3 separate regions of the Homo sapiens genome follow, and regions 2 and 3 are each linked to region 1. Evidence: fine-mapped expression QTL. A gene starts in region 1. Each other region holds a variant in brackets. All regions are shown on one strand. Distances are between the middles of the regions.

Region 1 (6,880 bases):
TTGTCACATTCTCCAACCAAATATGCAGTTCTTCAGGGAGCTGACCTTGCTCAGGAAGTTGACCTCGACTAGAGGTTAGGAGAGGTAGCGGAGTGTAGAGCAGCAGTTCCAAGATATTTTAATTTCATAGACTTAGTCACATTTCCAAAGAAGTGTGAGGGTTAACAGGAAGTTACCAATTTTCTTTTTTTTATATATAAAGTAGGACATTAAAAACCACACATACACACATATCAATACCACCATCTCTTCAGAAAAATGGAAAGGTATAACCTTAGAATGAAAGTATAGGAAAGGCAGGTGTATAGTCTCAATTAGTCAAAGATTAGAGCTCAGTATTATGGCTGCCTTGATATCAGGGAGACCTCAAATGGCCTAATTACAAGATCCCCTCCCTACTTTGCTGATGAGGTCCCCCAGCCAAACCACCCTCCTTATTGTGGGGGCCAGGCACAATTTCTGCTTAACCCTGAGTACTGGGCTTCAGCACCCTGCCAGCCCACAGAATTATGCAAACAGCCAATCACATTCTCTTACAGGAAACGGGGGCATTCCACCGTTTTGACATTACAAAGCCTGCCTCCCACAGCTCCTGGTAATACCTGTTTCTGAGTGCAACTCCCATGAAGCAGTTCATGGCGTGCAGTGTTATCCTCCCAGGTATGAGCATATGTGACTAATAAACTGCTATTGCTCTCATTCGTCCAGTGTTGAGGTCATGTGATCCCCCTAACTTTAGGGGATGGGAATCTCTCCCTCATCAACAGGGTGAAGAACATAAAATCAAAACAAGGTGATAACCTGACAGCTATGTTCAGAGTACCCCGGACTGTCCTCGTTTTACTTATTTCACCGTGAACCAGGGAAATGAGTCTAGCAGAGATCTGAGGGTCCGCCCTGGGAGCACTGGAGAGCACAGTGGGAACATGGAGTCAGGAGACTTAAGATCTAATAGTCCAGACCATGCTTCAAAATATTTGTCTGACCTTGACAAATCATTACCTTTCTCGGGCCTCAAGTCCCAGCTATAAAATAGTGGGGCAAGCCAGGTGCAGTGGCTCCCACCTGTAATCCCAGCATTTTGAGAGGCCAGGCGGGAGGATTACTTGAGCCCAGGAGTTCAAGATCAGCCTGGGCAACATGGTGAGATCCCATCTCTACAAAAAAAAAAAAAAAAAATTAATTAGCTGGGCATAGTGTCAAGTGCCTATTGTCCCAGCTACTCAGGAGGCTGAGGTAGGAGGATCACTTGAGCCCAGGAGGTCAAAGCTTCAGTGAGTGGTGATTGCACCACTGCACTCTAGCCTAGGCAACAGAGTGAGACCCTGGCTCAAAAATAAAATAAAATAAAATTTAAAAGATGGGACCACTGTAGTCACCTCTGTGATTCTAGAAAGACAATCTGATGAAATGAGGGAATGGCTGGCAGTCCCTAGGTCATGCTAAAGGACTGTGTGTTTTTAGAAGAGTTTTTATCCCCATATGTTTCTGGGTGGGAAAACAGGAGATGGTGGGAAAAGAGAGATCTAAGAGACCAACAGGGCAGCCGCAGTCTTCTGGCAGGAAGTCTTGCCTTAGCTGGATTCCTCTAAAGCCTTGCTGGTTTCAGCACTCCGATCCTATCCACAGTAAATGGAGTTTTAAAATCTCCTCCCTCCACCACCTTGTGCTCTATCCCCTGACCTCAGATGTCTAATCAGAGCCATTAATTCCATCCAATCAGAGATCTTGCTTGGCAGACACAGAATTGCCACACCTTCTACAGTCTATACTCCCCTCCCCTGCCTAAAAGCAAGGTGCTTGGGGACCCAGAAATTAGGCCAGGTCCTCATAACCTTATCAAAATAGCACTGCTAGGCCTTCCACCCAGCAACACTCAGAGACAGGGCCAAAGAGTGGGAAACGGAGCATCCAGGGCCTCAGCCAGCAGAGCCCAGATGCCTTCTGCAGTTAAGATCCCTGGACTCAGAATCAGAAAGCTGTTAAGCAGGAAGGAGTGCGCTGCCATGAAGAGGCAGACAGAAGCCAGAGCCAGTGTGTCTGGAATGCATCAGGTAGATGAATGGGAAGATGGCTGGGATGGAGTTGGAGGGAGGAGGGAAGTCAGCAGCCAGGGGCCAGGACATTCATGGCCTTAAAAAGTATCCTACAAACAAGAAGCCAGGTTAGCTCACCTATGAAGAGGGACAGTCTTACCAGATCATGTGTTAGAGTCCCCAGATCCTGGGGAGCGTGAGAAAAGTGCAGACTCAGCTGGCTCTAGTACTAGATTAAGGAGGTCCTAGGTGGGCAAGGCCAGCTGCATTTTTCATAAAATGCCCTAGAAACCTCTGCAGTTTACCAAAGTGAATAGCTCCTTTGGACTTAACCATCTGCAAGGCTCATTCCAGTTAGAGTGTTCCATCACCCTAAATGCTGGGAAACCAAGCGAATCTCCTCCCACTTGCAAGCTTCCAACAGTGGCTTCCAACAGTGCCACTGCAGTATCAGAAACTGCAGGGAAGGTGCCAGGGCTGACTTCCATGAAGAAATAGGAGAACAGGCAGGCAGACATTGGGGAGGCCCACAGAATGTCGTGATCAGAATTCATAAAGAGGCTGGCAGGATACAAATCAATCAAATAAACGTTAGTTCAAAAAAATTCACTACACCTGTGAGTGAGAGAAAGTCATCAGCACTGTCTCTAAAAATGAGCCTAGGGCTTCTGGTGACATCCAATCGGTGGGTTATCAGGAGTGCCCCAGGTGATCAGGAGTTGGCCTCGACTCAGTCCTTTTTGTGCTGTCTCCTCCTCTTTCCCAGAGTTCCTCTCTCTCTTCTCCCACTAGGCAGGGATGAGCAAGAGGAATGGCTCACCCTTGAGAGCTGGGGTCCATAGCCCAGGTCAGTTCTCCAGCTCTCCCACTTACCAGCCAAGACAGGAGGTGAGGATTGAGATGGGATGAACCCAGCAGGCGGCCATGGGTTAAAGGTCGCCATGAATGTAATGTGCCCAGCACAGTGCCTGCTAAAAGGCAACACTCCCTTCCTGGTCTGAAGACCAAACAAGCAGACTGTACTCAGGAAAGCCAGAAGAACCTTCCAGCTGTCTGGACCAGAAGGTGCCAGCCCAGGGGCTGAAGAAGACGTAATGCCCAGAGCAAAAAGCGCCTGCAGCCCCCTGAAGGGCTGGGTGCTCTGGAATAGATGAGGGGGCGAAATGGGGCTGGGGACCAGGGACGGACAGGGTGGGTCCAGCACCTGCCTCGCTTCCGAAGGGCTGCTCCAACACTGAAAAACACCCAACCAGCTTCCTTTCAGAAAGACTGGAATATTCCAAAACTTCTCACTGGAGGCTCCGGAGGAGGTGGGCTCCAGCTGAAAAGGAAATGTGGAGGCGTGGGCGCTCCCGGCCTGCATCCTGCACCTCTTACACTTTGGTTTTCCCACAGACTCCTGAAGAATAGGTCAGAAGAAAGGGTTAAAGCCTTAAAAGGGGAACAACCATTGCGGGGCTCAGGGAGGAGGATAATGTTCTTTGGGCTGCCGCACCCTGATCCCCGGGGTCCCGAACCCTCCCGTCCCTGGCCAGGCCTGCCAGCCACAGGGTGAGGGCCCCCTTCCGCCGCAACCTGCCACTCTCACACCAATGCGGGACCGCCTTCTCTTCCTTCCCCACCCCCCACCCCACCCTGCCGTCCTTTCTCCCCCAATCTCCGCCTCTGATTGGCTGAGCCCCCGGCTCCCCGCTCCCCCTCTCCTCCATCCCCGGTGAAAACTGCGGGCTCCGAGCTGGGTGCAGCAACCGGAGGCGGCGGCGCGTCTGGAGGAGGCTGCAGCAGCGGAAGACCCCAGTCCAGGTGGGAACTGGAGCCGGTGGGACCTGGGGCTCGGGGACCGCCGTCAGGCGCCCATGCAAGACTTCCCAACACTAGGCTTCGGGCCACGGTCCGAGGGCGCCCAGGGAAGAAGGGCGCAGAGCTTAGGGAGGGGCCTGCTTTCCAGGCAGGGGCGGGAGGGGGATGCTTCTGCAGGGCAGGGGCCGCGTGGCACCCTGATGTCTTTCGGGGAAGGCGCTCCCGGGCTTTCGCCCGCTGGGGGACTGGTGTCTGGGGCTGGGGCGCTGGAGAACAGGGAGGAAGGGCACCAAGGACAGCCTGTGGGTCTACATTCCACCCAGACGTCCCCAAACCCAGCTCGCAGAGGCGGGGAGGAGGACGGATGAAACTGCGGGGAGAGGATGGAGGATGGCGAGCTAGAGGGAATCTGCCGGGTGACCTCGCGGCGGGCTGGGTGCGGGGCACCGGAGGAGAAGGAAGCCGCAGTGCCGCAGGCGGGGACTGGGTGGAAGGCGGGCGGACGGGGGAGGGGAGAGCTGGAAAAGGATGAGAGAGGGGGAAGGGGGACTCATTTGGGAAAGGAGAGGATTGGAATACGGAAATGGATTAAGGATGAGGCCCGCCGGGGGCTTGAGAGGGAGGAAGAGCAGACCTTCTCTGGGTCTGGAGCCGCCTGAGGACACAGACCAGAGGAAATGAATACAGACTGCACCTCCCCAGCCGCTCTCCACCCCTCCCCTGGCTCTTCTACCCTCTCCAGCCCCAGACCCATTTCTTCCCTTTCTTGCTCTGGCCATTGCTCCCCCTTCCCCTCCTAGATCCCAAGCCCGCACAACATCTCAAACAAGAGTCCTCGATTCAAAAGCCAGATGCCGACCCCCCTTCCTCCTGGATCTGGCTCAGGGCAGCAGCTCCACCCCGGGACAGAGAGAGCATTGATTGTAGCTGCAGCCGCCGCGGGATCCTAGCCTCACCCGTCAAGGGGCTGAGCGCCAGGGACCCTGAACTCGTCTAGTGGTGCGCCCTGCGCACCCGGGCGCACTCAACCGAGGCAATGCCCTGCGCGCTCTCGCGGGTGCACGCCCCTTCTGTGGCCTCTCCTGGGCGAGCACTGCTCTGCAGATAGGCTAGACTACCGGCTCCGCGTCGCCTCGCCAAGGGTTGGTTCAGCCAAGGCTGCAAAAAACAAAAAAAGACCAGGCAGACAGCCTATCCAGGGTGGCTATTGAAACTGGGCTGGAAAACTGCAGTCCCAGGAACTCCAGAGAGCTGGACATTGGGAAGCATCCTTGGCTCACATACAATCGGAGATCACTATGTCTTTCTCTCCTCCAGGAACACGATTAGCTTGTGTCCTATCCAGATAGGAATAGATGCTCCCTATCTGGGAGCATCCTTAGCTATGGTGAATGGTATCTAGCCATCCACTGGGGATGGCGAGTGACTTAGGGATTTGTGTCTCACGTATATGAAGCAGTCATCGCCAGATGTTGGTTGTTTTTCTTAACCCCCATCATAACCCGGTGGGTATGTAAGATTCAGAGAGATTCATTCATTCATTCACAATAAATATCTTTGGAGTGTATGCTATATGCCAGTAATCTGCAAACGGAAACGGTTTTGAGCATTGGGGATTTTCTTCTGAACAGGAAATGGGAAGTCCCTAAATGGGGAGTCTTTGTTTAACAGATACAGAGTTTTACTTTGAAAGACAAAAAGAGTTCCGGAGATGGGCTGCATAGCAACGTGAATGTATCCAGCACTGCTGAATATACTGAATTTAAGTACTGAATTTAAATGGTTAAAATAGTAATTATTATGCTTTTTGTATTTTACCACGATTAAATTTTTTTTTTAAATACGAAGCCTCAGCCCTCATAGGTCTTATATTACCATACACTATGTTAATGTAAGAAGAGGAGAAAGAGTGGTAAAGTTACTTAAAGTCACCCAGCTAGTAAGTGCTCCATGGCCAAGCGCAGAAACACACCGTGACTGGGCTTGTTCTCCCTCCTTCCTTGCTTTCCCTGAGCAGGAAAGAGCCAGTGGCAGTATCATGTTCAGTGAGATGCAGGGACGAGAGGGGGAATGGAGAGAGGGACTTAGATGACTGCCATAGCCACTATGCCATGTTCCCAGGGACCCCCAGCCCTGGTGGTAAGTGTGGCACAGCTTGGCTGATTCCCATCCTGTTCCCACCCCAGATCCAGGACTGAGATCCCAGAACCATGAACCTGGCCATCAGCATCGCTCTCCTGCTAACAGGTACCCGGCATGGGGCAGGACTGGGGCTCCAGGCGCCCTGGCTTCCTTCCCTCCAGAGAAGCAGCTTCTCCCTCACAGTCTCAGAAAAGCGCAGGTGACAAAGAGAGGGCTCTTTTTCATCCTGAAGTCAGCCAATCCACCGCGCTGATATTCTGACGGCCTGAGGTGGTTTTTGAAAACACAGTTTGCTGAGCCCTCCTTCACACTATTGAACTAGAATCCCCAACTGAGAACCCGGAACCAGCATCAACTCCCTAAGATCTCCTGTCCTTGAAACACATTGATAGGATCCAAGGCTCAAGCAGAGTGGGGAGGGAGGCTGGGGTCTGCAAAGGAGAAGTGGGATCCCTGGGGTGGGGAAAGGCACTCAGAGAGCAGACCCCGGTCCCCTCCCTAGCCAGGCCCATCTCTCCACTTCAGGTGGGTGGGAGGCCCCTGTGCCGCAGGCCCCTCCAGTTTGAAGGAGGCACTGCTGGTGCCAGTCTTGCAGGTCTCCCGAGGGCAGAAGGTGACCAGCCTAACGGCCTGCCTAGTGGACCAGAGCCTTCGTCTGGACTGCCGCCATGAGAATACCAGCAGTTCACCCATCCAGTACGAGTTCAGCCTGACCCGTGAGACAAAGAAGCACGTGCTCTTTGGCACTGTGGGGGTGCCTGAGCACACATACCGCTCCCGAACCAACTTCACCAGCAAATACAACATGAAGGTCCTCTACTTATCCGCCTTCACTAGCAAGGACGAGGGCACCTACACGTGTGCACTCCACCACTCTGGCCATTCCCCACCCATCTCCTCCC
Region 2 (6,880 bases), 48 kb before region 1:
GTTCTTGGGTGCAAGGCGTGCTTCACATAGATCCAGGGGTCTTGGCTGACCCCATGCTCAGCAGCAGCCAAGTGCAGCTTTGGGCTGCATTAACAGAACCAAATGTCTGGATACAGGACTGCATTCAGCAATGAAGCCCAGTCCTCAGGCTATAGCTCTGGAACAGACAATGTAGCACAGGAGGAAGAGCGATGCGGACCATGTCATAGTTACAAACCCAGTCGTGCACATCATAGGGTGGTGATCTCATCAGATTATAATACCGTATTTTTGCTCTACCTTTTCTGTGTTTAGATGCCCAAATATTTGCCATTGTGTTACAGTCACCTACACTGTTCAGTACAGTCACATGCTGTACAGGTGTGTATCCTAGAAACAACAGGCTCTATCATGTGGCCTAGGTGCGAAGCAGGCTGTACCACCTAGGCTTGTGTGAACACAGTCTACGATGTCCCCACAATGACGAAACAGTCTTATAATGCATTTCTCAGAATGTGTCCCTGACGTTCAGTGGCATGTGACTGTCCCATCAATGGAGCACCAACACTATATACATCAGCTTCTCTAATCCTTACAACGGCCTGCATAGTTATACCCACTTTACAGATGAGAAAACTCAGAGAGGCTCCTTCTCTAAAGGCTATCCTATAAATGTAGGTGTTTCTAGGGGTTCCATTTCAGGCCTCTTCTCTTTTTCCTCTGCATGTATTCCCTTAGCCACATCTGCTCCTATAACCTAGCCTTAATTCTCAAATTAAGTCCTTGCCCAGATCTTTCTTCTGGGTTCCAGACTAGTCCATCCACCTGCTGTCAGTGGCCCTCACCAGCCTCCACTGCACCCAATTCAATCAGCCTCCCCCTCCTGCTCACTCTGCCCTCACCCTGGATCTCGGATCCTAGCACCACTCAGCGCCATCTCACCTCCCTGAGCCATGCTGCCATCACCCTTCGCCTCCATGTGAAGTGTGGCTCAGGGAGATGAGATGAGGCTGAGAGTGGTGCTGCTCTGTTTTTACTGGTGCCCTCCACACTGCAGCCAGAGTAGTCTTTTTTTTGGCAGGGGTGGGGGGTCGGGTCTTGCCCAGGCTGGAGTGCAGGCTGAAGTACAGGCTCGTCACCCAGGCTGGAATGCAGTGGCGCCATCTCGGCTCACTGCAACCTCCTTCCACTTCCAAAGTTCAAGCAATCCTCCCACCTCAGCCTTCCGGGTAGTTGAGACCACAGGCGTGTGCCACAACACTTGGCTAATTTTTAATTTTTTTGTAGAGGCAGGGTCTCATTATATTGCTCAGTCTGGTCTTGAACTCCTGGGCTCAAGCAATCCTCCCACCTCGGCCTCCCAAAGTGCTGGGATTACAGACACGAGCCACCGGAGGCAACTTGGTCAAACCTCCAGAGGCCACTTTCCACCCCCGCCAACCACATCTTCCTGGAGGCAGAGACAACGCTTGTTCCCTGCCTTCCCTCCCGACACCACCAGCACGCACTTGTGCACGCGCACACGCACACACGCACACGTGGGCAGCTCGAACTGCGCTCCCTCAGATTCCTCCTCCCCTGAGCACACTGTACCTGCCCTGCCCCAGGACAGGGTGCCCCCTCCTCCCACCTGCACCCCACCTGTCTCTCCCCCAGCTTCTCTTGTTCCAGCACCTCAGTCCTGGCATCTGCCAGGCTAAGAAGCCATCCTTGGCCTGGGAGCGCTGTCTTTGACTCGTTTTGTGGCCCTGCACTCCTGCTCTTGGCCTCATCTGCCCATCAGTAAACAGAAGTGGATGGATCATGAGATGACCTCCAAGGTTTCTTCCAGCTCACAGCACCACTGACTGGGAGGCCTCAGCAAAAATGTCCTCACAGTTCTGGAGGCTGGAAGTTAAGTCTGACATCAAGGCATCCTCGCGACTGGTTTCTTCTGAGGCCTCTCTCCTTGCCTTGCAGAAGCGCCTTCCCCTGCGCCTTCACCCAGACTTTCCTCTGTGCAAATCTATGCCCTCGTTTCCTCTTCTCATAAGAACACTGGTCATATTGGATTAAGGCCCACCCATATGACCTCATGGTAACCTAATTACCTCGGTAAAGGCCCTGTCTGCAAATACAGGCGATTATGAAACAACATGTGTTTGAACTTTGTGAGTCCACTTACATGCGGATTTTCTTCTGCCTCTGAGACAGCAAGACCCACCCCCACCACCCCCTCCACAGCCTACTCAGCATGAAGACAGGGAGGATGGAGACCTTGATGAGGATCTACTTCCACTTAATGACTAATACATAGATTTTCTCTTCCTTTTGTTTCTTTTAATAACATTTTCTTTAGCTTACTTTGTTGTAGGAATACAGTACATAATACATATACCATACATAATATGTGTTCAACTGTTTGTCATTGGTAAGGCTTCCAGGCGACAGTAGGCTATTTGTAGTTAAGTTTGGGGGGAGTCAAAAGTCATATGTGAGTCTTGGCTACGAGGGGGTCGGTGCCCTTGACCCCTTGTTGTTCAAGGGTTAACTGTACAATCATATTCTGATGTCCTGGCTAGGGGTTGGGACTTCAATATGTGAATTTTGTGAGGACCCAATTCAGCCCAAGGCACTGGAGGGACAAAGTCCACACTAGAGCACCCTAAGTACTACTGAGTATTTCTAAAGTACCGCCGGGTATGGCTGGGTGCCCTGAGTCCTGCCGGGTACACCCGGGCACCTGAGACCTGCCGGGTACAGCCAAGAAACCTGAGACCAGCTTGGTACAGCCGAGAACCTTGAGACCTGCTTGGTACAGCCGAGAACCCCGAGACCTGCTGGGTACAGCCGAGAACCCTGAGACCTGCTGGGTACAGCCGAGAACCCTGAGACCTGCTGGGTGTGCTGGGCACCCTGAGTCCTGCTGAATACAACTGAGTACCCTGAGTCCTGCTGGGTATGGCTGAGTACTGCTCACTTTCAGAGTCTCTTCCTCCCCCGGCCCCCTGCTGCCTCTGATCTTTTTTCAGAGTGCCACTGTCCCTCTCACCTCCCTTAGTCCCTGGGAAATGGAAGACAGCCTGGGAGTGAGGGAGGAAAGGGGACATGGGAGCACAGCGGACGGGGAGGGAAGTGCAGGGAGAACAGCTAGACTTGTTGCTGGGGAGGACACTGTCTTGGGGCCATCTAGGGCTAGGGGTTCACCGGGCAGGAGCAAGGCAGAGGGGTAAGGGAGTCCAGGGTTCTAGCAAGAGATGGTGGAAATGTCATGATCAGTGCAGACTAGAAAGCAAAGGTGGGAGATGGAGTGAAAGCAGAGGCATTCGTGACATTAGAAGCCAGCAAGCTGGGTGGGACAACAGGGATTACAGAGAAGGGGAGAGCGGGGCTGGCTCACTAGAAGCCAGCAAGCTGGGTGGGACCACAGGGATCACAGAGAAGGGAAGAGCGAGGCTGGCTGAGCCTCTGCAGGGAAACGGGTGTTCCAGCATCTGGAGCCTCTGAACCTTCCCAGGCCTCTCAGAGGAGGAAGAGCCAGGGAGGGACAGGGAGAGCTATTGGGGGGGCCATCACAGCAGCCCCTCAGGTTTGGGGTCTAGGAGTCTGAGTTACCAAGTGGGGCTGGTCTGACTGTCTGCTGGGAACAGGCTGTCCCCGGCCCAGCTGTGGGCACAGGAGAGAGGCAGAGCCTGGTCAGGAGATCTCCCAGGGGAGGCTGGGACACCTGACGCTGCAGGCATCAGAGAGTCTGGAGGGAGAGGGGCCAGGCGGGGTGGGAGCCGGGGTCTCTGAGCTCTACAAATGGGCCGCCTCGCAGGCAGGCCAGCGGAGAGGACCCCAGAACACTCCATATCTAATTGGGTGGGTGCAGTATATGGATTTTCTGTAAGAAGTGCTCTCTGAAGCATTTCAAAGGCATGTGTGGCCTCAGAAAGCTTATGAGTCAGTGGCCAACTGACATTTGGTACACTGCATTTAAATGCAGGCAAAAGGCAGCCGTCTTAAGGCTTGCGGGAAGGGCGTGGGCCAGCTTTCCTGGAACATCTGCCAAGGCACAAAGGAAGATGCTGCCAGGAAGGAGTGCAGTGATGTTTCCCAGGCCA[G/A]CCCTGCCTCCTGGGCCCTGAGCACCTCCCCTTAGAGCTTCCATCAGTCTGGAAATACCTGTGAGCCCTACTGTGTGTTGACACCAGGCTGGGTGCTGGGGCTACCCGGGAAGAGCAGCCTTGCCCAGGAGATGCTCGTGGTCCTGGCTTCCTCATCTGGCACCCATCAGGCTAGACACAGATGGGGCTCCAGGCCTTTGCACATGCTGTTCCCATAGCCAGCATCCAGTCCTGGTCTAGATGACGCAAAGCCCTAGCTCATGTCTTCGGAGAGGAGATGCGGTGTCCAGAAACTGGTGGCCTCAGGACCATTTGAGATGTTCTCAATTCAGTGTAAGGACTATGATGCACAGTGTCGTTTGTACTGTCTTTACTTTTTGTGACAGAGAAATAATTCATTTTTATGAAGCTCACAGAAACACAATCTCTCATTTTATAATTGAATTATGTGGAACTCACTTTGCACAAGATGACAGGGCTGAATCTTCTTGTGTTTTTCTGTGCGCTTGGATCTCTCTGCCTCTCCCGTGTGTTGTGAGTTCCATGGGGAAGGAGTCCAGTCTGGGCTGTGCAGGGCTGCATCCCCACGAACCTGCACAGTGCTTCCCACCAGGTGGGAACTTGGCCTGAGAAAATAAATAAGACCCTCAAAAATCCAAGGACCAAGCCATGAATCTCCAAGCCTAACCAGGTGGACATATCTCCTCCTCAGCTCAAGGGGAGACCCAGGGGCCAGAAAACAGCCACTGTGATCATGGCCTTCTGAGAAGCCCAAAGGGACAGACTACGCCCTTGCTCTAAAACATGCATCTCTCCAGTCCTCCCTCAGCCCTGAGGGAACTGGCTTCACTCCTCAGCAGAGGAGGCTTTGCTCTCCACATGCCCAGGAGGGCCGGGGTGGGCTCAGCTTCTGAGGGCACAACCTCCTTACCATGATTTATGGAAAGAGCAACTCCCGGAAGGAAGCCTTAACCAAGGACCTGCCAGGAAACTTTTTAAAATATGTCATTGAAAGGCACAATGGACCCAGGCACAGTGGCTTACACCTATAATCCCAACACTTTGGGAGGCCAAGGTGGGAGGATCACTTGAGCCCAGAAGTATGAGACCAGCCTGGGCAACATGGCAAGACCTCATCTCCACACACACACACACACAAAAACTTAGTCAGGCATGGTGGCACACACCTGTGATCCCAGCTGCTTGGTGGGCTGAGATGGGAGGATCACTTGAGCCCAGGAGGTGGAGGCTGCAGTGAGCTGTGATCACACCACTACACTCCTGTCTGGGTGACAGAGTAAGACCACATCTCAGAAAAAAAGAAAAAGACAAGAAAAGACAATGAGGGGAGGCAGAGCAAGATGGCTGAATAGAAGCCTCCAGCGTTCGTCCCCCTGCAGGAACACCAAATTAAACAACTGTCCACACAGAAAAGCACCTTAATAAGAACAAAAATCCTAAGAACCTGGTACCAGCTAGGCCCAAGTAGGGTACAGCATCAAATGGGCTCCTGGGTCCCCAGTTCTAGACTGTGGCTCCTTGATGGCATTTCTGGACCTGCTCTGGGCCAGAGGGAAGCCTGCTGCCTGGAAGGGAGGGACTAGGAACAGGCAGCATTCACCACAAGCTGAATGAAGAAGCCTGGGCCTCGACTGAACATAGCCAGGCACTATTTACCACAGGCCTGGGGTGGCAGTGGTTACGGGGAGAGACCCCTGTACTTGAGGAAAGGGGAGGGAAGAGTGGGAAGGATTCTCTGTCTTGTGGCTTGGGTGCCAGCTCAGCCACAGTTGAATAGAGCATCAGGTAGATTCCTAAGGTTCCTGACTCCAGCCCTGGCTCCTGGATGGCATCTCTGGACCCCCCTGGGGCCAGGAGGACTCACTGCCCTGAAGGAAAGGACATAAGCCTGGCTCAATATGCCACCTGCTAACTGTAGGGATTCTTGGGCCTTCAGTGAACATAGGTGGTAGCCAGGCAGTGGTCAATGCATGCCTTGGGTGAGACTCAGTTGCTGTCCAGGCTTTGGGTCTGACCCAGTGCAGTCCCAGTGGTGGTGGCTAAAGGGGTACTTGTGTCACCCCTCTCTCAGCTCCAGGGAGCTCAGCACAGAGATAGAGACTCTGTTTGTTTGGGGGAAAGTAAGGGAAGAGAACAAGAGTCTCTGCCTGGTAATCCAGGGAATTCTTCTGGATCTTACCCAAGATCACTAAGGCAGTACTTCTACTAGTGCAAGAGCTACAGCATTATTGGGCTTGGGGTGCCCTTTAAAGCAGATATGGCAGCAGTGACCAAAGACTTAGATCACAACATACAATCCCTCTGAATATTTGGAAAGCCTGTCCAAGAAGGATGGGTACAAACAAGTACAGACTGTGAAGACTACAATAAATACCTAACTCTTTAATGCCCAGACACTGACAAACATCCACGAGCATCAACACCATCCAGGAAAACATGACCTCACCAAATGAACTAAGTAAGACACCAGGAACCAATCCTGGAGAAATAGAGATATGTGACCTTTCAGACAAAGAATTCAAAATTGCTGTTTCAAGGAAGCTCAATGAAATCCAAGATAACACAGAGAAGGAATTCAGAATACTATCAGATAAATTTAACAAAGAGGTTGAAATAACTTAAAAGAATCAAGAAGAAATTCTGGAGCTGAACAATGCAATTGACATATTGAAGAATGCATCAGAGTCTCTCAACAGCAGAACTGATCAAGTAGAAGAAAGAATTAGTGAGCTTCAAGACAGTCTATTTGAAAACACACATTGGAAACAAAAGAAAAAAGAATAAAAAAGAATGAA
Region 3 (6,880 bases), 51 kb after region 1:
TCATACCCTTGTTGGGGGGATTGTATCTGATTGGCTGCCTGGTGTCCCAGAGCCCAGCTCCTGAGACCTGGAGTCTCTTTGACTTTGCATTATTGATGGAGTTCTCCAAAGCAAAATAGGGCAGGACTGGGCCCCCACCCCGACCCTGTGCCTCTGTCTGTCTCTCCCGCTATGGTTTCCCTCTAACGCTGTGTGACATCATCCCCCAGTTACCTTTTCCTAGAAAGGGGTGAAAGTTGTGCTGGGCACAGTGGGCAAAGGAGTGTACATGAAGGGCCAGGGGCCCCCTGGGCCAGGTGGCAAAAGGCTAGACAGTAAGATGGACCAGGCCTTTCTGATGTCAGCCTGGACTGAAAACTGCTGGAGTTCTCAGGCAGGGTCAAGGAATGCTGTTCCGGGCCTATATGGAAGCCACCTGCTCATCTCTCACCCCTGTACCTACCCCAAAGCCTTGTGTGGACTGGGATTCTAGAGCTTTCTGCCAAGCCCTCGCATTTGGGGTTTGGCACCAGCTCCTCTCTGCCCTAATGGGCTGGGTTGCCAAGCCAGTGTCTGCTGAGTGGCCAGATGTCTGCCCACTGCCTGTTTCTCTCGCTGGGGGCTGCAGGGGGAGGCCTGGCATCCCAAGCTGAGGCCAGAGGCTGGCCAGGCTGGGAGACAGCCAGCCCTGATATTATCACAGACCTTCAGAGGGCGGAGCCATGCTGCCTCGCAGTAGCTGGGGGAGGAGATGGTAGCCACTGTCATTGTGGAGCCCTTCACGTGTTGTTATCTCATTTATTCCTCACAACAGCCCTGTGAGGTAGGAATTATGAGGATGATGGTTTTACTCATTTACAGATGAGGAAGTTGGGGCTCAGAGAGGTTACGTGACTAGTGCAAAATCACCCAGCTAGTCCATCACAGGGCAAGTCCCACAACTCTGAGAGTCCTGGATGGCTCTGCTCCATCCCCCTAGAAAGCCCCCCAAGAGCCCCTGATGCCCTCGGGGAAAGGCGTCTGACCCTACTTGCTCCTCTGCCACTCCAGCTCCATTGGATACAGGCTGCACGTTTACGGTGATGGAAGGCCTCTGGGGGTCCCCAACTGACCCTAAATCTGATGCGGGGGAGGTAACTCCAGGTTAAGTAGAAAGAACACTGGCCAGGATTTTAAAGACCTGGATTCCAGTCCTGGCTCTGCTGGTGTGTGGCCGGGGGCAAATAAGCATCACTTTTCCCATCTGTATAACAGATAGATTAAAATTCATGATCCTCTGGGGCTCTCAAAGCTCCACATTCAGCAGTGTCTGTGTTCCTTCACTAGACCCTCCCCAGCTGCAGGACTGGAGCAGGGAAGGACTGGGAATGCCACCTGCAGTGCAAGATTTGGGACTGTAGGGGGCCCCCTTTGCACAAGCATCGCCAGGACCAATTTGAGATCTGTGTTTGTAGAGGAAGCCTGTGTTGGTAGAGGAACTCTTAGGAGGCCACAGGGCCCTAACTCCACTTAGAACAGAAGCTTAGCTCAGTGAAGTGAGTGTCCCTCACTGTGGGACCATGCAGCAGGTGCTGGTGTCTGGGGAAAGGGTCTGGAGACCACGTTCTGGCCCCTCATTGTTGCATGCTCACTCACGGCCTCCCCTGCCCACCCACACCCCATTACTTCCTCCCCTGAGCCTCCTTGGCCTCACAGGGGATCTGACCAAATGATCTTCAGGTCATTCCAGCACAGACAGTCTAGGATTCCAAAAAGACACCTGCTCATCACATAAGTCAGAAGGGACAGATGTGGTCTTAACTCCTGAAATATCCAGCATTCTCAACCCAGGGGTCAGTGGCATTCCCCCAGCTCAAGAGTTTCTGCAGATGCTGAGGCAATGGGATTTGACCTGGAAGACTGCACGGCTTGGTGGGCTGTGGAGGTCAGATAGCCCCTGCTTGCGTGTTTGAGTCTTTGAATGGCCAGGATGCGCTGACTTCCTGTGTGGCATATAAAAGCCACCTCATCCCTCGCACTCTCACCGAGGTGTGAACACACAGGTGCAAGCAAGCTCCTGTGCACACCTGCGTGCATGTGTGCTTCTCAGCAGCCAGCCTGCCTCTTGTGGAAATGGACTGGGAGCTCTGAGGTTCTGGCCCAGCTGAGGATGGGGAGCAGGTCTGTGGGAGCCCGACACCTGGCAGGGCCCTCTGACAACTACACTCCTTGTCTTTCAGCCCATGAGGCTCCCAGTCCCCACTGAGTGCCACCCTGAAGGATGTCCCAGCTCTCCTCCACCCTGAAGCGCTACACAGAATCGGCCCGCTACACAGATGCCCACTATGCCAAGTCGGGCTATGGTGCCTACACCCCGTCCTCCTATGGGGCCAATCTGGCTGCCTCCTTACTGGAGAAGGAGAAACTTGGTTTCAAGCCGGTCCCCACCAGCAGCTTCCTCACCCGTCCCCGTACCTATGGCCCCTCCTCCCTCCTGGACTATGACCGGGGCCGCCCCCTGCTGAGACCCGACATCACTGGGGGTGGTAAGCGGGCAGAGAGCCAGACCCGGGGTACTGAGCGGCCTTTAGGCAGTGGCCTCAGCGGGGGCAGCGGATTCCCTTATGGAGTGACCAACAACTGCCTCAGCTACCTGCCCATCAATGCCTATGACCAGGGGGTGACCCTAACCCAGAAGCTGGACAGCCAATCAGACCTGGCCCGGGATTTCTCCAGCCTCCGGACCTCAGATAGCTACCGGATAGACCCCAGGAACCTGGGCCGCAGCCCCATGCTGGCCCGGACGCGCAAGGAGCTCTGCACCCTGCAGGGGCTCTACCAGACAGCCAGCTGCCCTGAATACCTGGTCGACTACCTGGAGAACTATGGTCGCAAGGGCAGTGCATCTCAGGTGCCCTCCCAGGCCCCTCCCTCACGAGTCCCTGAAATCATCAGCCCAACCTACCGACCCATTGGCCGCTACACGCTGTGGGAGACGGGAAAGGGTCAGGCCCCTGGGCCCAGCCGCTCCAGCTCCCCGGGAAGAGACGGCATGGTGAGTTTACCCTTGGGGACCGGGGATAGGCTGGGGAGGCAGCCACTGATGGAGAACAGCCAGGCTGAGGGCTCGACTCCCAACCTGACTGATGACTGACAGGCTGCTCCTGGTGGAGACAAACAAGAGAAGTCATCCTGGCACATCTGGTGCCCCTGGGGCTCCGTGCCGAGGGGAGGGGCCTTCCCACTCTGCCTAGAAAGCCCACTCAGGGCCCGCGCACTCGAGGATAGTCCAGTAGTGTTCTCAGGAATGCTCTGCTGCGCC[C/G]AATGAACCACTCTTCTCACCTTCTCCTTTTCTATGTGACATGCCAGTGTCTCCTGCAGGCCTTGCCCCAACCTGGGCTGGATGCGGGGGGGCCCAGACCACCAGTGCACCCTGTGGCAGGAGGGCCTCCTTGCTGTGGTTGCATCTCCCCTCTTGTGCAGGCTTTATTCCCTAGCCCCAAGGCCTGGCTTTACATTTGGACATAAGACATCAGGGGAAGAGGGACTCTCCTCTGAGTGACACTGGCATACTCAGGACCAGGGTATCAGACAGCAATGCTTATCATCTGGCTTTGGAGAAAGTAGGGGAGAAATTTTTATCTAGGGCTTGAGACAATCCAATACCTCTATTCCAGCCCTGCCTCAGCTGGAATGAGGGAAGAGGCTCTGCTGGAGACTGACCAAGGGCTGGCATGGGCTCGCTCGCCAACTAATGCCCGCACACGCCTCTCTTGGGGCACTGACGACATCTGCCTTTTCTGTAGTTATTAGTGTGCCCATTAGGTGGCAAGCTCTCAGAGGAGGAAAAAGAAATCCTATCTCTAGATCCCCTGCCACGTGCCTCCCACAATGGGGGCTGACCTGCTGATTGCAGGGATGAATGGATGGATGGATGTGTGGGTGGTGGGTGGGTGGATACACGGGTAGATGGCGGGTGGACAGATGGACAGGCAAGCATATGGGCAGAAGGGCTGGATGCTGTGTCTCCTCCATTACCTTATGTACCCCTCCCTACTCCTAGGACAAATACATTTTGAAAACAACAGCATGCCACAGCAAGAAATACTGCTTGGAGGGCTGATCCAGACAAATGCAGCAGGGGTTCAGGAATAGGGGCAGGACCTTGAAGCTTGCATAACTAAAGGTCTTGAGAGAGCAACTTTGATAATATGACTTAGGGAGTCTTGGCTTTGTTGTGCCATCTGTGAAGTGGCACAGGAGATAGAAACGCTGGTGCCTCCCAGAACATTCAGAACTTGACAAGGCAGGGCTGGATCCACTGTAGAAAGGAGTGGAGAAGAGAGATGTGTCACAACAGAGCTGGCATGGTGGGGAAGTATCAGCTCTCAGGGTGCTGCGTGCTGGGCTTGGAGTGGAGCAGGACTCACTTGGACTCGGCTGGTGCTGTTCAACCCCAGGGCAATTAGAATATGGCTCTCCTCGGAGGGGCTCGGGTCCTAGAAGCCTCTGCGGGGCTCCCTCCCCTTGCTCAGAAGAGAAGGGTTGTTTCATGGTCAGCAGTGCTCCTTAAAGTGGGGTCTGCAGACTGCCTGTGTCAGAGTCACTGCAGGGCTTAACGATTCATCCAAACCCACTGAAGCAAACTCTCTCGGGATGGGGCCTGGGAAGCTGCTCTTTCCACAAGCTCTTTGGGTGATCTCTAGGCATGCTGAGATGGAAAACCTCAGCGCAGACTAAACTACAGACCCACCCTCAGCCCCAATCATGACAGCAGTATTCCCCTTTACTGGGGATCAGATTCCACTGGGAATCTGCCTCCTCCCCACACAGGCATGGCCCAACCCTCCTGGGAGTCTGCCGCCCTCCAACTCTCCAGAAGGGACAACCCTGGCTCCTCCCCCCGGCTCCAGGGCCAAGGTGAAGGGAATTTTGAGAGAGGACCTCAAAGAAGTGGCAGATTGCCCTGGGACAAACTCAGCCACCCTCATCCAGAAGCAACTCATAAGGCACTTTAGCCGGGAATGCCCTGCAGTTGAGCTAGTGTTTCATTCTGAGCTCATGCCCCAGAAGATACTGCCAACCAGCAGAGGCCTCTCCAGGGTCAATAGTACAAGACCTTTATTTAACCTCACCCTGATCTCTCCACCCCTTATCGTCATTTCCTGGAGCAGAGTGCGTCTTGCTGAGGTGAGAACAACCCTGCTCGTGCGGCCTGGACCACTTCTTTCTAAAACTGGGTCCAGTTTCTTTCTAGATCTCCATCTGGGGATCTTGCCTTCTGAGGCACTCATTTGTGGTGCTCAGCTTACTAGCAGCGTGACCTCAGATAGGTCCCTTAGCTTCTGAACTTGTGTCCTCCTCTGTAAGATGAGTGATCATAGTTCCCACTTCACAGATTACTTGAGGAATGAAAAGATAATGTATGTGAAAGTGCCTGGCATGTTGCTTAGTAAATGTTAGTCCTCGTTGTTGTACCCTTCTGGTGCTTTGGCAGGCAAGAGATGTGTGCGAGCAACAGTCCCTGCCTTCAGTGCCTTCACAATTCACTTAGGGAAATAAGTTTGTTTTGTTTTGTTTTTTTGGAGATGGAGTCTCGCTCTGTCTCACTCAGGTTGGAGTGCAGTGGTGCGATCTCGGCTCACTACAACCTCCACCTCCCAGGTTCAAGTGATTCTCCTGTGTCAGCCTCCCAAGTAGCTAGGACTACAGGCGTGTACCACCACACCAGGCTAATTTTGTATTTTTAGTAGAGACGGGGTTTCACCATGTTGGCCAGGCTGGTCTTGAACTGACCTCAGGTGATCCACCCGCCTCGGCCTCCCAAAGCGCTGAGATTACAGGTGTGAGCCACCACGCCTGGCCAAGAAGAAGTTCTTAAATAGGTACAATGGGAGGCAGCCCTGGGTGTTCTTGAGTGTCACAGGTGGACGGAAAGGGAGAGGTCATCTGAGGCTGGGACGGGCTGCTCGTGACCAGTGGAAGGAACAGTTGGCCTCTCTAACCTTGGACACCTATCAGCTGGGCTGTATTTCCTAGACTATAAAAGGGAACAATCACGCCCGCCCTGCCCACCTCTCAAGCATGCCATGAGGCTCAAAGCAAATAATGAAGGTGGAGGAATGTGAAATCAATAAAATGCTGCAGAAGAGGTCATTTAAACTTAAGGGGGGAAAAGAGATCATAGAAAGGGGGCGTTTGGCAGCTGACTAGAGTAGGAAGCCCCCTCCCCACCAACCCCGTGGGAGAAACAGAGGTAAAAAAAAGTACATCCTGTGTCCCAGGGGATTCTCAGGATAGCTGACTGGAGCTACAGCTGGCATTCATTAAGGGAGGTCAACAGCAGGCTGTGACCAGGGAGAACAGTTCTAGCCAGACTTCTTTCCCTCATTAACAGTAATAGGCAACACGAACTTTGAATATCACAGACTCAGCTGAGCATGAGCACAGAGCTGGCGGGGGGCAGGGGCGGGTGGCAGGGGGCGCCACATAAATTCAGAATTATCCCCTCCCCATGCTTGTGTAAGCACCAACAAAATGCCAGGCCAGGGGGGCGCAGCTCAGCACTTGTATAATGAGGGCCTCCCCTGAGACTTCACCTTCTGCTTAAAATGCAGAGAGGAGGAACAGTGATGGTGGAAAAAAAGTGTTCACTAACCCAAGTGGGGACTCCAAGCCAGCTCAGGTGGCTCAGCCCTGCAGAGACCCAGGAGCCCCAGTCCCAACCCTGTCATCTCCCTACTCTGCCCCACTTCTCCTGTTCCCGGGGTCTATGGAAGGACGAGCTGTTCCCATTGAGCCCTGCCAGGGCTGCGCTTTAACCCCTACAATCCTTCCTAATCCCCCTCAGCTCCACCCCTCCAGCTGCTCCTCCCTAGCCCTGGCATTCTGCCCGCTGGCCTCTGCCCAGCCCTTGCCCCAC

Direction of the effects. Positions count from the first base shown, and alleles are read on the strand shown. Sizes are in standard deviations (SD) of each study's normalised expression. Not every link is listed here.
With allele A in place of G in region 2, the expression in gastroesophageal junction of the gene that starts at base 3,780 in region 1 is lower (small effect, 0.18 SD a copy in GTEx).

The links. PIP is the estimated chance that this variant, and not a neighbour inherited with it, causes the effect.
Region 2: its variant is the best candidate, but not a certain one, in a credible set for the expression of THY1 in gastroesophageal junction (GTEx, PIP 0.82).
Region 3: its variant is the best candidate, but not a certain one, in a credible set for the expression of THY1 in atrial appendage (GTEx, PIP 0.68).

Annotation. Positions count from the first base shown.
Region 1 is chr11:119,420,072-119,426,951 of GRCh38, reverse strand. It overlaps THY1 (Thy-1 cell surface antigen), which reads left to right and starts at 3,780. Exons shown (of 4, transcript NM_006288.5): 1 at 3,780-3,839; 2 at 6,023-6,083; 3 at 6,566-6,880. The coding sequence starts at 6,047. The region is part of intron 2 of USP2-AS1 (USP2 antisense RNA 1); the gene reads right to left. RefSeq lists enhancers at 3,902-4,467, 4,468-5,034, 6,734-6,880.
Region 2 is chr11:119,467,619-119,474,498 of GRCh38, reverse strand. It overlaps USP2-AS1 (USP2 antisense RNA 1), which reads right to left. Exons shown (of 4, transcript NR_034160.1): 3 at 4,524-4,690. Among named protein-coding and RNA genes, the nearest start is that of THY1, 48 kb to the right of the region's middle. RefSeq lists an enhancer at 581-1,081. The variant G/A (reference allele first, on the strand shown) is at 4,065.
Region 3 is chr11:119,368,840-119,375,719 of GRCh38, reverse strand. It overlaps USP2 (ubiquitin specific peptidase 2), which reads left to right. Exons shown (of 13, transcript NM_004205.5): 2 at 2,199-3,013. The coding sequence starts at 2,240. Among named protein-coding and RNA genes, the nearest start is that of USP2, 9.4 kb to the left of the region's middle. RefSeq lists enhancers at 2,260-2,760, 6,349-6,880. The variant C/G (reference allele first, on the strand shown) is at 3,281.